Regions from separate parts of the Homo sapiens genome. Here region 1 is linked to region 2. The links come from fine-mapping of genetic effects on gene expression. A gene starts in region 2. The other region holds a variant in brackets. All regions are shown on one strand. Distances are from middle to middle. Region 1 overlaps MAPKAPK2 (MAPK activated protein kinase 2). Region 2 holds the start of MAPKAPK2 (MAPK activated protein kinase 2).

Region 1 (8,325 bases), 39 kb after region 2:
GTGTCTCCTCCTGTGTCCCTCTCTGGCTCCAGATCTTCCACCTGGCAGAGTTTCCGGAAGCCCCAGAGATATGCTCCATGGCCATAGGGCCTGAGACGTGGATGGCTGCCCTCTGACTAAAATTTAGAGAGCTAAGCTTGTCTCTTTAAAAAGTAACATATACTAATTGTAAATCACCTAGAAAATACAGACATAATAAAGGAAATTAAATCTGTGATTCTGTCTTTCAGAGATCATTACCATTAACAACTCATTGAGTCTTAATGCCTTTATTGTTTTTGTTTTGTTTTGTTTTGTTTTGTTTTTGAGACAGAGTCTCACTCTGTTGCCCAGGCTGGAGTGCAGGCTCACTACAACCTCCGCTTCCTGGGTTCAAGTGATTTTCCCACCTCAGCCTCCCAAGTAGCTGGGATTGCTTACAGGTGCGTGCCACCATGCCTGGCTAATTTTTTTGTATTTTTTGATAGAGACAGGCTTTCAGCATGTTGGCCAGGCTGGTCATGAACTTCTGACTTCAAGTAATCTGCCCCCCTTGGCCTCCCAAAGTGCTGGGGTTATAGATGTGAGCCACTATGGCCAGCCCCTATGCCTTTATTTTTTTTATATACAGATCCAATAAATATCCATAGAGCACTGAGTTTATGCTGTACATAAGGGTTTGTAACTTTCAGTTACCATCAGACATGTTTTGATAATGAAATTTAAAGAAAGTACACATTGGGATTTGGGATGCAGAAGAAAAAATAGGATAGTATTCTAGACAATGACAGTGATGATACCTGAGAATCTAGTAGACACTCAGGAATCCACATTTCCCCATTTAATATTCATCTGAAACACCATTTCAGTGGCTGTAGATTGTGTAGCTAAACTCACTTTTACATAAAACAACCTCTGTTACTTATCTCTGGGCCTTAAGTTTGTGATATAGTTTGGATGTTTGTTTCTCCCAAATCTCATGTTGAAGTGTAATCCCCAGTGTGGGAGGTGGGGCCTGGTGGGAGGTGTTTGGGCCATGGGGGTAGGTCCCTCGTGAATGGCTTGGTGCTGTTCTTAAGATAGTGAGTTCTTAGGAGATCTGGTTGTTTAAAAGTGGGTGGCACCCCACCCCTGTTGCTCCTGCTCTTGCCATGTGACATCCCTGCTCCCCCTTCACCTTCCACCATGATTGTAAGCTTCCTGAGGCCTCACCAAAAGCAGATACTAGTGCCAAGCTTGTACCAGCTGCAGAACTATAAGCCAGTTATATCTTTTCTTTACAGATTACCCAGTCTCAGGTATTTCTTAATAGCAATGCAAAGTAGACTAATAAGTTTGTTAGCTATTTCTAGTAAAGGTAAATAACTCTTGAGATGTATATTTTCTTAAAGATACGTCTATGATTAATACCTGAGGATGAAATTCTAAAAGTAGAATTTTAACATCAAAGGGTTTGCACTTTAAGGCATTTTCAGCCTCCATTTCTGGCTGTTGCTGTTGTGGACAGTCTTGGGCAGATTTTGAACTCTTTGCCTTACTGTGGGGTGGTGGAAAGGAGGCTTTAGGAGCAGCCAGAGCAGGGTTCAAACTCCAGCCCTGCCAGGGACAACTGGCCAAAAGGTCGTGAACTAATGACTCAGTGAGTTTTCTCATTTATAAAATAGGATGTTTCCTCCCAGGGTGGGGGTGAAGTGGGTGAGATGACCCATTTGAAGCACAGTGGACCCTTGAACAATGCAAAGGTTGGGCAGTCAATTCACATAAAACTTTTGATCTGAGTTGGGCAGATCACCTGAGATTAGGAGTTTGAGACCAGCGTGACCAACATGGAGAAACCCTGTCTCTACTAAAAATACAAAATTAGCCGGGCATGGTGGCACACGCCTGTAATCCCAGCTACTCGGGAGGCAGAGGCAGGAGAATCACTTGAACCCGGGAGGTGGAGGTTGCGGTGAGCCGAGATCGCACCATTGCACTCCAGCCTGGGTAATGAGAGTGAAACTCTATTTCAAAAAAAAAAAAAGGCCAGGCACGGTGGCTCATGCCTGTAATCCCAGCACTTTGGGAGGCCGAGGCGGGCGGATCACGAGGTCAGGAGATCGAGACCATCCTGGCTAACACGGTGAAACCCCGTCCCTACTAAAAATAGAAAAAATTAGCCAGGCGTGGTGGTGGGCACCTATGGTCCCAGCTACTCGGGAAGCTGAGGCAGGAGAATGGCGTGAACCCGGGAAGCGGAGCTTGCAGTGAGCGGAGATCGTGCCACTGCACTCCAGCCTGGGCAACAGGGCGAGACTCTGTCTCAAAAACAAAAACAAAAACAAAAAAAAACAAAGAAACAAAAGAAAACTTTTGATTCCCCTAGAACTACTATTAAATAATAGCCTACTGTTGACCCGAAGCCTTACTGATTACATAGTTGATTAACACATATTTTGTCTGTTGCGTGTATTATATCTTTATTCTTGAATAAAATAAGCTAAAGAAAATAAGCATCGTTAAGAAAATCACTTTGAGTAGGCTGAGGAAGAGGAGGAGGAAGAGGAAGGGTTGGTCTTGCTGCTGCAGGGCTGGCAGAAGTGGAAGAAAATCCCTGTATAAATGGATCCACGCAGTTCAAACCTGGGTTGTTCAAGGGCCAACAGTACTTAGCAGCCATTTAGCACAGAGCACTGCCAGCCCCCCTCGGCCTGCAGCCTGCTCCAGCACCTTGCTAAGAGGTTGCTGAGGCTCACCTGCAGCAGCTGCCCTCCCGAGTCCTCTTTCCTTTACACCCCTCAGAGCACCCGGGCCAGCCATCCTCCATGTGGTGCAGCAGAGGCGCCGGTGGTCCGGGAACCAGAGTGGGTGGCCCTGGCCTGGAGGCACGGTGGGTTAGTGTGTGACACACGTGGCTTTCCCCCGACCCCCAGCTGCCTCCTGGGAGTGAAGAGGAGGTCTTATTTGCCAACACATACCGCACCACACACCCACAACACACTTGGTGCCAGAATCAGCCTTTTGCATCGCTCTTGGCGCTGAATCAGAGTCTGTCTTGGGGAGGGATGTCTTCCTTCTCTCATTACATGCGCCCAGCTTAGGTGGTGTAGTGAGGGAGTGTACAGGGCTGGGATGCCACAGCCTGCTTTCCTCCCCGTGTCCTGGGGTCCCCCGTCTGTCCAGTGCCCAGAGCTATTAATAACACCTTCATTGAAATGGGTGTAATGGAATCCCAGTTGCCCCCCCCAGTGGGACTCCAACACATGGGGAGTGGGGAGCAGAATAATAATAGCAAACACGGATGCAGTACTTATTACGTGCCAAGCGTTATTCTTAGTTATTTACATCATGCACATCTATTAACTCATCTTGTATAGCAAGCCCATGAGGTGGGGACTATTACTGTCCTATTAATGGGTAAGGGAACCAAGGCACAAAGGGGTTGGAAACTTTTCCCAGTTCACATAGCTAGTGAGCAGTGGCGCTTGTGAAGGGGGTCCTCCTGAGGGCCTGGGGCCTGCTCCTTCCCAGTCTTGTCTTCATGTCCACCTTGCTGACGAGTGGCACATCAGGCCCTGGGTGCCGGCTGCTTTCCTGTCCTCTGGCTCAGCCAGGCTTCTAATGCTGACCACTCCTGAGTCTTTCCACGTGGCTCCACAATGGCAGACTTGCAGGAGGAGATGAGGGGAACCATGCATACCTTGAATAGGGGGAGGGGTCCTGTCCTTCTTCCCCTCAGGTGCTGGAAGAGACAGAGAGGCATGGGACTGTATTTAGGCAGCTCCCGCAGCTCCCTCACTGCCGCTGTCCTAGAGCTTCCTTCCCAGGCAATGCGCTCTGTGGCTTGGGCCCCTGCCCCTGCCACAGTTGGCAGGGGGCCTTGCCTGTGGCGTTGCAGCTGAGCACACGCAATCATTAACCTTTTCTACGTGTAAGAGAATTTCAGGCACAAACTGTGGGGCTGAGGTGAGTCACAATGTTGGACCGGGGCTTAGTTTGGGCTTAAAATATTTCACAATTCCTCCAGGCATTCTTTGACTAATGATCTATGGCTTTTTAGTGGGAAGACCCTTCCTTCTTCTAGTCTCCAGTCCTCAGAGCATGGTTCAGGGCCTGTTGGCCTTCACTGCCCATGGCCATGCCCATGCCCAAGGAGCAGGGGCCTTGGCTTCTGGGTGGACCTGCCGCCTCGCTCTGCTGGTGGCCTCTGGCAGTGCCCTAGGAGTCCTGCTTTCCTTCCCTGTCTCTTCTTTGGCTTGGAGTGCAGGCCACCTCCCCTGCTGTTCTTTACTTAGCCCTGTACTCCAGATTAGCACATTCTTGGTTTCCTCTCTCCAGGCCTTCTGCGCTCCACACTTGTCCACAGAGCCACTTTGGCACTTCAGGGCTGTGCCCCCAGGACGTCAGCCAGCCTGCCTCGCCCATCTGAAGGGCTTTCATTGCTTGGGTTGATTTTCTTATCCAGTCAGGGATTTCTGATAAACATGTGCCTGGATGGATGTCAATGACCAGTCCTTTTTTTTTTTTTTTTTGTTAAATTTAATTTAAGTTCTGGAATACAAATGCAGGATGTGCAATGACCAGTCTTCATGGGAAATTCTTGCTAAGTTTCTCTAAGAAATTTAAAATACTACCTTTTCCAATTTATTTCAGGATGGAAAGGACAGCTCACCCTCAGTCACTGGGGGAGAGAGTTTAGTAGGGAGAAGAAGCAACAGAATGAGGGGGTGTTAGCTCAGAAGTTCCTAACCACTAGGTGAGGGAAGGAAGAGGGGAGGGAGTAAACAGAAATCAAATTAGATCTTGCCCATTAGAAACTCAGTTAGGTTGGGCAGATAAGGCATAAATATGCAAAATGGTAAATTTTTTCAAAGTGGAAACTACCCTATATAGAGTTTCTGAAGCACCTTCAAGGATATTATTTCACGAAGTTGAATCTAATTTTACAGATGAGGAAACCCTTTCCAGAAAGATAGGTGGGCTTGC[A/G]TGACACAAGCTAGGAAGTGCAGAACTGGGATTCAAAATGCATGCGATTGCAAAGCCTAGGTTCACTGTGCTACATCCGTCTCCTCTAATGGGTAGAGAGTTTGTGCAAGTCTGGAAGTGTGATGTGAACCTAGCCCTTCTTGCACAAACTCTCCTTTGCCTTGTGCCACGCACTCCTAACGTGTTCAGGGCAGAAAGTGCGGAAGTTGCAGTGAGCGCTTGGAATTCAGGGGGTGCTAAGGAGCATGCATTTAGATTTGGATCTTGGTGCATCCTCACTTAGCACAGCTCTGGTTGGCAGATGTCCTGGTGGTCGTCACTGGGCTGAAGACAGAAACCCAGCCTACAATCTTGGTGATAACTTGTGCTGGTTACATCCACATGCTCCAAGCTCAACTCAGTGGTGACGGAGGAACCCCCCTGTACTGTGGCATTAATGGTACTGGTTGACAGTGATGAATGCCTTTCTGATAATAAAGCACTTTTAGAGGTATTATTTCATTAGATGCTCATAATGTTTCTATGAGGGGGAGGCTAGGCAGGTATCATCGCTCCTAAATGCATGTGGCACAGGCTCTGAAAGGTAGACCTCTCTGTGAGGCTGTGCAAGAAGAAATTGACAAATTTCAGACTGGGCCAAGTCTTCCCTGATTGTAACTCTACAACCAGGCATTGCTTCTGAGTAAATCTGACAACTTTGATTCTTCTCCTCTGGGCTCCAGTTCCTGTGTGCCTGTAGGGGGCGATCGAGGTTCTTTCTGCTTGGCTGCTCTGGAAACCTTGTTCCTCCTGAACCCTTTGAATTTAGCACTCTTACAGCATGTAATCTCACTGGATTTTAAGGATTTTCTGTGTCTCCCCTCATATCTTCTTCTGCCCCCCACTAGCCTAGGCTTTTCCAGATCAGGACTGCTCTATTTGGTTTTGACATTCAGTGCAATGCATGGCCCATAGTAGGAGCTCAGTAAATGCTTGCTGGATTGAATTATATACAAAGGAAATTGGCCAGTGCCTTCTCTTGCTCCCCTTAGAGCATGGGAAAGTAAACTTTTTTCCTGGTACATCCAAATGAATGAAGTTGAAGGCTGGGCATGGTGGCTCACACCTGTAATCCCAGCACATTGGGAGGCCAAGGTGGGGTATCACTTGAGACCAGGAGTTCGAGACCAGCCTGGCCAACATGGCGAAACCCGGTCTCTACTAAAAATACCAAAAAATTAGCCAGACGTGGTGGCTCACACCTGTAATCCCAGCTACTCAGGAGGCTGAAGTGGGAGAATTGTTTGAACCCGGGAGGCGGAGGTTACAGTGAGCCAAGATTGTGCCACTGCACTCCAGCCTGGGCAACAGAGCGAGACCCTGTCTCAGAAACAAACAAACCCTAATGAAGTTGAAAGTGGCAGAACTCAAGACCCATGAGGTGTCCTCATATGGCCACAAGGTGGCAGTGTGACCTCCTGGGAACCTTGCCTCCTGCAACTATTGGCTCCGGCCACCTGTTACTCCATGGGAGAGACCGAGTTATCTAGTCATTGATTCCTTCTAGTCACCTGTTTGGGGAATTGCCTCTGCAAAGTCAGTCTGAGAAATCTTGGCTTCCAGCCTCCTCTAAAAGCTGGGTGGTGTGGTGGAAAGACTTGGTCTTTGGAGTCTACCAGGCCTGGATTCCAACCTTGGCTCTGCCTTTTCTCAGAAACTTAGCCTTGGGCATGCTACTTCTCTGAGCCTCAGCTTCCCCATCCTGTAAAATGGCAAATGTACAGTTAGGAAAAACCCAACATATCATGGGCCATAGCATAAATGTATGCCAGCATTCTTGTTGGAAATGCTCATTTGTCCTTCCCTTCCCTCTGCAAGCTGGCTCCATCATGGCCATCTGATCTTATTTGCAAGCTTCAGACACTTTCCAGCAGGTTCTTAGGCCTCCCTGCTGTATCACCCCAGCTCCACTCCATCTCGGTCAGTCAGCACCTGCTTCCCACGTTTCCCTCTGCCTTCATGCCTTCCCTCTGCCTGTCCATTTCCTTCCCAGCATGTCTCTTGGACACCCCAGCCCTCTGAATGTCCAAAGCAGTTGGAGTGTGGACTGTGTAGGGCTCATCTTGACTTCCCATGAAGATGCTAAATCTGTGAGTGTCCTTGTCTTAATTATTTTGGCACCTGCGCTTGCACTTAGACAATTGGTGATAAAAATGACAGCTATTAGTGAGTGCATGTCAGATACTCTGTGAGGTGCTTTGTGGAAATATTTCATTTAATCCTCACAACAAATCTGTGAAACAGAAGCCATTATCCATCCCCACTTTACAAAGGAAGGGTAGATCAGGATGCTTTTGGCTCCAAGCAATAGACAATTTCATGAAAAGCAGCTTAAACAGTAAGAAGAGTTTATTATCTTGTCAAAAAGAAGTACTGAGGGATCCCTGGTGATGGCAGCGAGGATCCAGGTGATTGCCATTTCTCCTGGTTGCCTTCCTCAGTGCATTGGTTTATCCTCTTAGGCCCCCCTTACTGGTAATAATGTGACTGTCATGGTCCCAGGTGCCATATGCAGGAGAGATGATGTACATTTCTTGTGCTCCCTTTAAGAAGCCTCTTAGCAGATTTCTTTTTTTTTTGAGATGGAGTCTCGCTCTGTTGCCCAGGCTGGAGTGCAGTGGCGTGATCTCGGCTCGCTGCAAGCTCCACCTCTCAGGGTTCACGCCATTCTCCTGCCTCAGCCTCCTGAGTAGCTGGGGCTACAGTCGCCTGCCACCATGCCTGGCTAATTTTTTTTGTATTGTTAGTAGGGACGGGGTTTCACCGTGTTAGCCAGGATGGTCTTGATCTCCTGACCTCGTGATCTGCCTGCCTCGGCCTCCCAAAGTGCTGGGATTACAGGCACGAGCCACCGTGCCCGGCAGCAGATTTCTTACAAGGCTCTTGGCCAGTTGAGTTGTAGGCTTGTTCCCAAGCCAGTCACTAGCAAAGGGACTGGAATTAATGAGACTGGCTTAGACAGGTCAAGATTGAACCCCTGAGGCTGGTGAGAAGCCAGCCTCCTTTAATACCCCTAGCCAATTGGTCCAGGGAGAAGAAGGGGCATCAGTGAGGTTCGACGAGTTAAGTAACTTGCTCAAGCTTGGAAATCTAGTAATAACTGGATTCATACTGGCATCCGGCTGACTTCCAAGGCCATCTGTTGCCAGGTTGAAGTCAACTACAGAGGTAGAGAGAATATTGCTCTGGATTTGTTGTGCTGGGTCTGAGTAATTGCTGAGGGGCCTTTTCCTATGGACTCTGGAGTCTCTCTTCTCTCTAGCCCCCTTTCCAATACTGTATTGGTTTTTCTCAGTCTGCCTTTCTCCCCGAAGCCCCTTCACCCCCTGCTTCCCAGTACCT
Region 2 (8,325 bases):
ATAGAAAACCTAGACCATCAGTCACTTCAACAAGAAGGCCATTTATTGTTCTTTCATATAAAAGTCTGGGTAGGTGGCTCATTGCTGATATGATGGATCCAGGTTCACCAGTATACAGACTCTTTCTGTCCTTTTGTTCTGTCTTCCTCAACCTGTAACCTCCAATTCACCATCCAAGATGGCTACAGCTGTGAAATTTTTATTCCAGTCAGCAGGAAAGAAAAAAGAGAAGGAGAAGAAGAAGGACATACTTCTTTCCATAAACCACTTCCACTTACAAGTCATTGGTTATAACTTAATCTTATGAATGTAACCGGCTATAGTGGAGGCTGCTCAAGTGGGAAATGTAATTTTTATTCCAGGCAGTCTTGTGCTTAGCTAAATATGGGGTGCTCTTTACTATCAAAGAGAGGAAAAAAAGGTGTTAGCCCACCCAACTAGCAATCTCAGCCACGGATCATCATGAGATTTAAATGAGACAATGCAGGTAGAGGGTTGAGCACAGTGTTGGGCACTCAGGAAGCACTCAAAAAACATTGTCATCGTCATCATCATCATCATCATCAACATCATCATCACCATCATCATGAGAAGGTGAGGAATACTTTGAAACTGTGACAAGGCATTTTCTTATTTTAACCTGGTCTTGCTGCTAACATCACCCTTGGCCACCTCCCTTTTAAGGTGATTTGAGTTTCATCTTTTATGATACCTTTGAACATGCCTTCATGAAACAAAACTATATAAAAAGGAAAGCAAGGGAAAGGTGAACATAGGACTCAGGATGATGGGGTCTTGGGCCATGAAAATGGAGGGGTTGGGGGAGTGTGTGTGGAGGAATCATCTAGTTAGATGTAAATTATTGTCGAAGTTCTAGTTTTTATTTTGGGTAGTGGATTCACAGGTGCTTACTGCATTATTAAAAATAATTATTAACTAACAATAAAAGTGGAGCTGCATGGATCAATGATCCAATGACGAGAGTGTGTCATGAATCAAGGATTATAATTAATCCATTTCTATGTACCTGAGGTCCTTAAATTGTCTTTGTGTGTACTATATTGCATGGCATATGTGTTTGCATGTTAATAGTAGATAAAAATAGTACTTTCTATTTGCATAGACTTTCAAGTTTTAAAGCGCTTTTACACATCCATAAAAACTGTTTATTAAGTAGTTCATTACAGATGGCTAAGAGCCTGGTGTTACACAAATAGGACTTTGGACTGCTTCCTGTAGGAAAGTTTTTATTTTATCCTTGCACAAGCCCTACAAAGTAGGCAAGGCAGATGTTATTGTCACTATTTTGCAGATGAGAAGGAAGGAACTGAGAGAGCAAGGGGCTCTCATGAGGTTACATAGCGAGTCAGTATCAGAATGGAACTTAAGACTCAGGATCTCTTGGCCAGTGCTTCTGCATTTAGCACATCTTACTCCTCAATTATTCATCCACTAGGCGTTTATTCTGTTACATGGCACATTGTGCTCATGTGTTGTGTTCATATATGTGTGTGTTTTCTGGTGCTGTGTGTGCAGTTCATATAATCTCTATCCACTATGTATGTACCCTCAGAGTCCCTGTGTGCCCCCTAGGCCTATTTGGCTCTTGCAGCTCCGGGAGGACTCTCAGGTGGGAATTCAGTTGTCCTGTTATTCCTAGATCATTGGGCCTCACCATCTCCCTGGAGCTCCAGCTAGGTAGGAAAGCAGCTTTGATATCAGGAATAGATCCGTAGGCCATGAGCACAGAGCAGAGGAGCAAGCCAGCAATGTCTAAATAATGGTGATATTTAATATTTCATGATAATGTATAGTTTATGCTTTAGGATGTGTTCTCATAATTACTATTTCATTTTATTCTCTCTCAGCCCCGAAAGTAGATTTTGTTGTTTTTTTCTTTTCTTTTTCAGATGCTGAGAGATGTTACATGTCTTGCTCAAGGTAACCCAGTTGGAGGACAGTCTTGGCTTCAGCTCATTTGTCTCTAGATCCTGTCATCTTACCACTGTGCCTTGCTGCCTCTGAAAAGGCAGAAGGAAGTTATTCTCTTTCTAGCTTTGTGGAGAAAAGCAGGTGATACCTCAACACCAAGCCATAGGGAGCTTCCAGTGACTCTGCAAAGAAAAAAAAGACCAACTCAGACTCCAGAGCAGCCCCACCAGAGCCTGAGCAGTTGGAGCCTTCCACCTTCCCACCCCTGCGTTCCTCTTGTCCTTGGGCATCTCCTGTGTGTGCTTCGGGGAGGTGATAGCAGTGCTATAGAAGTAGTGGAGTGAAGATGTTTTCCTATCCCCGTGGCCTTAGATAGTGTCTTTGTCTTTGAAGAGTCAGGGGCATCTGGGGAGCTGTCTAACCGTATCTATCCTGTAGACTCGGGAGGAAGCTGCTGGCTGCTGTAGACAGAAGAGAATCCCTGTGCTTCGGGCTCCTAGGAAGGTGTCTGCCATCCTCTCTGTGCCACTGTTATCTGTCTTCTTCCCCATCAGATAACACCATCCACCGCTGCAGGGCTGAGCACGGCACCTTGTACATGGAGCTAAGCAGATGCTGCTTGAGAAGAGCATATGTTTGTGTCGGGGGAAACATGTCTCTCCTTGGTCCACAGAGCCCTACCTGCCCCAGGAAAGGACAGTGTTGGGAGGGTAACTCCCACCCCTCACTCCTCCCCCTCATTCCTGCCTCCACAAGCATCTTCTGGGAAAGGTGAATGAGGGAAGAGACATTTGCACTTGTCCCTTACCTACCTAAGTTCTATCCCCAGTGGCCACTTCTGGGGGTGTTGTCTTCTCTCTGGAGTTTTGGGGGACCTATTAGGGGGCATGTGTGGCCATAGGTCAAGCCTCATTCTCTAACTGGCCTTACCAAGACTTAAGCTGAGGTTTTGTGTTCACCTGTCTGGGTTGCTTGCCATTTCTCAAATGTTCTGCCAGTCAGAGGTGGGAGGAGGTCGGCAGGAATGTACTTGGTCATCTCGAACCCCATCAGAATGTGTGTGGAGGCCTCCTGGCAGCTTCTATGCAGGGTCCAGCTAGATCCCTGGGCTTTTCCTGAGATACACGGGGCTAACCCACTTCTTACGGATTAATTTTTCCACATCGGAAATCAGAAGCCATTCCCCAGGGCCTCCCCTTCAGTTTCATTATCTCCTTTGACTCTGCCCACAACCTTTGAAAAGGTCTCGCTGTTCTTCCCACGGAGAGAGAGGTGCAAGGCTTGCTCAGCCTCACACAGCCAATCCGTGGCAAAGGATGGCGGGAATTCAGGTGGCCCCAATCTCAACCCATCCTCTTCCCACCCTGTATCCTTTTTAGTTTATTTACAGGAAAACATGTTCAAAGGTATAATTACTAAAGTGCTCCTGGTTACACAATAATACGTCTTTACTGAAAAACAATAAATTAATGAGAAAAGAGATGCAAAAAACCTCAGAGGAAAATGTTGAAGTTAGGGAAATATTTAATACGCCCGCCTTTGGCTCACACCTTTTCCTGGGATGAATGACCCCTGTGATTCCAGCTCCCCCCCACCCCCACGAGGTCTCATCTAGCTGGATACCTACAAGCCATCCCTGTCCTTGGAAATACACCCCTCTCCCAATTCGCTGCCGCTAAGAAGCCCAGACAATTGGAGAGGAGTGGATTTTCCATCTGAATTATGCAGCTCCTTTGACACGCCTCCCCTCTCCCTTTGCATAGCCTTGGTTAAGAACTAGCATTTCTTCGTCCCCTCTCCCTGTCCCCTCTCACTGTCCGCGAGGCAGCAGCCCCCAGCCTACTCCGCGATCCTCCCAGCTCCCGGCACCGCGCGTCCTCCCCTTTAAGGCCCGCCCCTCCCCCCACGCCACGCCTCCCCAGGCCCCGCCCCCCGCCCCTCCCCTTTAAGGACCGGCCCCGGACGCAGACGAGGCTGTGACGCGGCCGCCGGCCCGGGGCTGGGTACATTGTCGCGCGGCCGCTTCCCCCCGGCCGGGCCCCCGCCGCCCCGCGGTCCCCAGAGCGCCAGGCCCCCGGGGGGAGGGAGGGAGGGCGCCGGGCCGGTGGGAGCCAGCGGCGCGCGGTGGGACCCACGGAGCCCCGCGACCCGCCGAGCCTGGAGCCGGGCCGGGTCGGGGAAGCCGGCTCCAGCCCGGAGCGAACTTCGCAGCCCGTCGGGGGGCGGCGGGGAGGGGGCCCGGAGCCGGAGGAGGGGGCGGCCGCGGGCACCCCCGCCTGTGCCCCGGCGTCCCCGGGCACCATGCTGTCCAACTCCCAGGGCCAGAGCCCGCCGGTGCCGTTCCCCGCCCCGGCCCCGCCGCCGCAGCCCCCCACCCCTGCCCTGCCGCACCCCCCGGCGCAGCCGCCGCCGCCGCCCCCGCAGCAGTTCCCGCAGTTCCACGTCAAGTCCGGCCTGCAGATCAAGAAGAACGCCATCATCGATGACTACAAGGTCACCAGCCAGGTCCTGGGGCTGGGCATCAACGGCAAAGTTTTGCAGATCTTCAACAAGAGGACCCAGGAGAAATTCGCCCTCAAAGTAGGTCTGGGGCCCGGGGAGGGGAGGCGGGGCCGGTCCCGGGCCCTGGAGCTCCACGGCGTCGGGTGCCCGTCCCGGCCTGGGTCGCGGCGCGGGGCGGAGGGGTGGCCGCGGCGGGGCGGGGCGGGGCGGCCGGGCCGGCGGTGCCGAGTGCGGCGCGGGCGGCGGGTCCCAGCGCCCTCGCCTCCCTGACCGCTTCCGGCCGCTCCCGGGCGGGAGCCCTGGGACCCGCTCCTGGGGACTCAGGGGACCCTGCCATTTTGGGGTTTGAGCGGGATCCAGCCGAGTCAGAACGGTTGGCTTCGGGACTTCTGCTAATTTCACTCCATCTCAAGGAAGTGATTTTGGGGTTGGTGGTTCCCCGTCCTCTCCTCCCTCCTTTTTCTCTCTCTGCGGGCACAAAAGGCCCATTACTCATTGAGCCGGTTGGTCGGTTGGTTTGGAGAAGTCGGATCGCAGAGGTTTATTTAGCCTCGCTCCTTATTTGGGAGCCGGAATGTGTGATTTCACTTCCCCGAGCCTCGCGAGGGCAGCCGGGCCGCCTTGGGGCGCGCCGGGCAGGAGGTGTGCGGCGGGAGGGTCCTGGGTGTCCCCCGGCTGCGGGGGCGGGATTATTTGGATCCCGGAGCTGGCCCCCTCAGCTGGCCCCCTCCCACGCCCGCGCGGGGCGGCTCCGGGGAGAGGCCGGCGGTGTCCGCGGCCCGGCTGATCATTGTGAACAGAGTCTGTAACCCGCGGCCGGGCCCGTGCTGATTCCGCCTCCTAGAGAGGGCCACTTGCTGTCCTGGACTCGCGCCGTGATGGGCAGTCTGAGGAAACATTATCCTTGAGCCGGGGGAGCCCATCCCTTTTCTTTCTTTAAGGGGTGTGGTGGTGGGGAGAATAAGGATTCAAGTGAGAATATCGACTTCAGAAGTTAAACACAATGGACTGGGAGGTCTCATGAGATGGGTGGGTCCGCAGTGAAGTGTGAGCCGGTCTTGCAGGGTCACCAACAAGGTTTTCCTCTCACAGGGGTTTCAGGTCAAACCAATCTCTAAAGGTGACGCCTCAGGTCTGTTTCCCCTGGGGTGTCTCAATGATTGGAGGAGGAGAAAAATACTTCCTGTGTTATATTTTTCTCTTCCCCTTCAGCCCCCACAGCGAGCTGTATTTCAGTTGTCAAGTACAAAACTCAGAAATGTGGTATGGGTGGAACTATTGGAATATACGATCAGATGTTTTAAAAGAAACACCAGTACTTCGGGGTTGTACGGGGCAAGCATGTTCCATTTCTAGATTTTAAGGCCTCTAGAATTGTTTTCCTGCTGCTCTCATACTCAACCCTGTTACAGTGCTTTGCTTTCTACTGTAAGTTATTGCTCTGGGATCTCGGTTGTTGTTTAGTGTTGACTGTTGGAGAGGGGATAAGTATCTTCAACACTTCAACATTTGTGTCTTAGACTTCTCTTTCCCTACTCATAACTGAAGGGAAAGGAGGAGGAGGAGTTGTTTGGATTGAGCATGGCTCTGACCTTGGGGACTGGAGTTGGGTGAATACAGTTTGACCACAGTTAACCTGTATCATTGAGGAAGTGACAGACGGTCTTTACAGGAGTGTTTGCTGTCCCCTCTGAGACACCATCTGCCTTCACCCATTAGTAGTTTGGGGACACTGGCTGTTCATTCTCTTGGATATTTGGAATATTATGTAAAGACTTCAGAACAAAAGCTCCCAACTTCTGCTCTGTATTCTGTTTAATAGACACACGCACAAAATCATCCTATAAAATGCTTTTGAGTGGCAATTCAGATTTCTCTTGTAACTAACGAGAGAGAGGTTTACATATTTTTCTACTTTGAATAGTTTTGGAAGGAAAAATCCAGCAGCGTGTTAAATAACACTCATAGTTTATCCCTCTCAGGTTAGAAGTGGGCGAAGAGTGAAGTCAGTCTGTTTTGACAGGCAGCCTGCTCCCAGATCTTTTAAGTTGACTCAACTGTTAAATTGTGGATTTCCCACACACGTCTTTGTGTTAAAACTTAATAATGGAGGAAGAAAGGAGAGACAAGGCATTTGGAGACTGACAGCAGTGTTAACAGCACTTCCATATCCAAATATTGGCTGAGACATAATTACAGCTGTGGGGGGAATCTGGTTCAAAGAACGCTGTTCCAGAGACACACACCAAAGAGATTTCTAGATCTTGAATTTTGATTAACCTCAGGTGCTGAGTAGTGAAATGGTTTTCAAAACCAGAAGTCTAGTGATTATAAAGCAGGAGAGGAAGATGGAGTGGGGCAAGAGGGATTACCCCCTTGGGAAGGTGCCTGAGAAAAGGGGAGGAGACCTCTATTCTACAGTGTGCCGAGGCCAATGCTGGGGGCTAGGGCAGAGCTGGAGGGCAGGAGCCCAGCCTCTGCTGGGGTTCAGAAGTCTGCTATGTTGCAGCCCTGAGAGTTGATGGGAGCTGGCAGCTGCTTAGATGCTCTCCTCTCTGCCTATAGTCGGTGACCTCTTAGCCCTGTTAAGTGAAATCAGCATTTGAAAAAGAGTCCCAGCTCACCCTGCTGCTTCTCTCCCTCCACCTCAGAGAGCTCCCATTTAAATGCTTTTGGTGGGTGCTTTGACCTCACCTCACCATCTCTCCTGGCTGCTTTTGCTAAGTTCTGAGTCATGCTTCCAGTCAGAGTTGCAAGGGACTTGAAAGGTCATTTTGTCCAGCCCCCTTATTTTGCAGAAGAGAAAACCAAGGCCCAGAGTGAGGGAGTGACTTGTTCAAGGTACCATAGCCATTCACTTGGCAGAGGCAGGATTGGAACCCAGGTTGCCTGACTCCCAGTCTCAGGCTTCTTCCCACTTACTTCCTAACTGAGCCACGGGCTCAGGCACATGGCCACCTGCTGCTCCAGGGTGCTTCCAGCCTGAGGAGCTGTTCTGTCACCTCAGGCCCTGACTGACAAGAGGGGAGGTCAGCGAAGGGGGCTGGATGGGTATTTGCTGCTCCTGAGAACAGTCCCCAAAGTTGGAGGGGAACTTCAACAGTAGCTTCATGCATTTTTTTAACCACTCCCTCCCCCTTTTAAGAGAGTATTTGATAGGCACCTTACTTACTATTTTTTGTACAAGAACATGGGAATTCTATTATTTTTATTTTTATTTTTTTTGAGACAGAGTGTTGCTCTGTCGCCCAGGTTAGAGTGCAGTAGCACGATCTTGGCTCACTGCAAGCTCTGCTTCCCAGGTCCACGCCATTCTGCCTCAGCCTCCTGAGTAGCTGGGACTACAGGCGCCCGTCACCATGCCCGGCTAATTTTTTGTATTTTTAGTAGAGATGGGGTTTCACTGTGTTATTCAGGATGGTCTTGATCTCCTGACCTCGTGATCTGCCTGCCTCAGCCTGCCTAAGTGCTGGGATTACAGGTGTGAGCTACCGCGCCCGGCCTGTATTACTTCTTTGATAAGGACACCTAGTCTCAACCCACTTGTGTATTAATTAGTTGTATTCCCCGGGAGGGTTCCTCAGCTGCTTGCCGCTTCACTGTGTCATGGTGACCCTTAGGTGTTAGCTCAACAAATTTAATTAAAGACTGTATCGTTGTTCTCTGCTGTGCAACTCTGATTAGGTGAAGCATGTTACTGCTTTATAAAATATAGAATGTTGTCGTAACTTATCTCTGTGTATCTTTCCATTGCGTGGATTAGAGAAAACAAGGTCCTGTAGTTTCTTTTCCTTTCCTTTCTCCAGCATTCCTCTCTCCCTAGGTCATGGAAGTGCCACTGCGATGTGGCTTCCTTTGTTCTGGTGAAGGGGAGATGATTGGAGCCTCTCA

Evidence for each region. PIP is the estimated chance that this variant, and not a neighbour inherited with it, causes the effect.
Region 1: its variant is fine-mapped to the expression of MAPKAPK2 in whole blood (TOPMed, PIP above 0.99).

Annotation. Positions count from the first base shown.
Region 1 is chr1:206,720,077-206,728,401 of GRCh38, forward strand. All of the region lies in intron 1 of MAPKAPK2 (MAPK activated protein kinase 2), which reads left to right. Among named protein-coding and RNA genes, the nearest start is that of MAPKAPK2, 39 kb to the left of the region's middle. RefSeq lists an enhancer at 2,352-3,065. The variant A/G (reference allele first, on the strand shown) is at 4,945.
Region 2 is chr1:206,680,997-206,689,321 of GRCh38, forward strand. It overlaps MAPKAPK2 (MAPK activated protein kinase 2), which reads left to right and starts at 3,909. Exons shown (of 10, transcript NM_032960.4): 1 at 3,909-4,512. The coding sequence starts at 4,234. It overlaps LOC124904496 (a long non-coding RNA gene), which reads left to right. Exons shown (of 3, transcript XR_007066834.1): 2 at 179-594; 3 at 1,911-1,992. LOC124904495 (a long non-coding RNA gene) reads right to left here and starts at 3,810. Exons shown (of 3, transcript XR_007066833.1): 1 at 2,745-3,810; 2 at 2,355-2,547; 3 at 1,144-2,114. RefSeq lists silencers at 3,885-4,064, 4,525-4,574, 4,585-4,674, 5,085-5,174 and enhancers at 6,514-7,075, 7,076-7,637.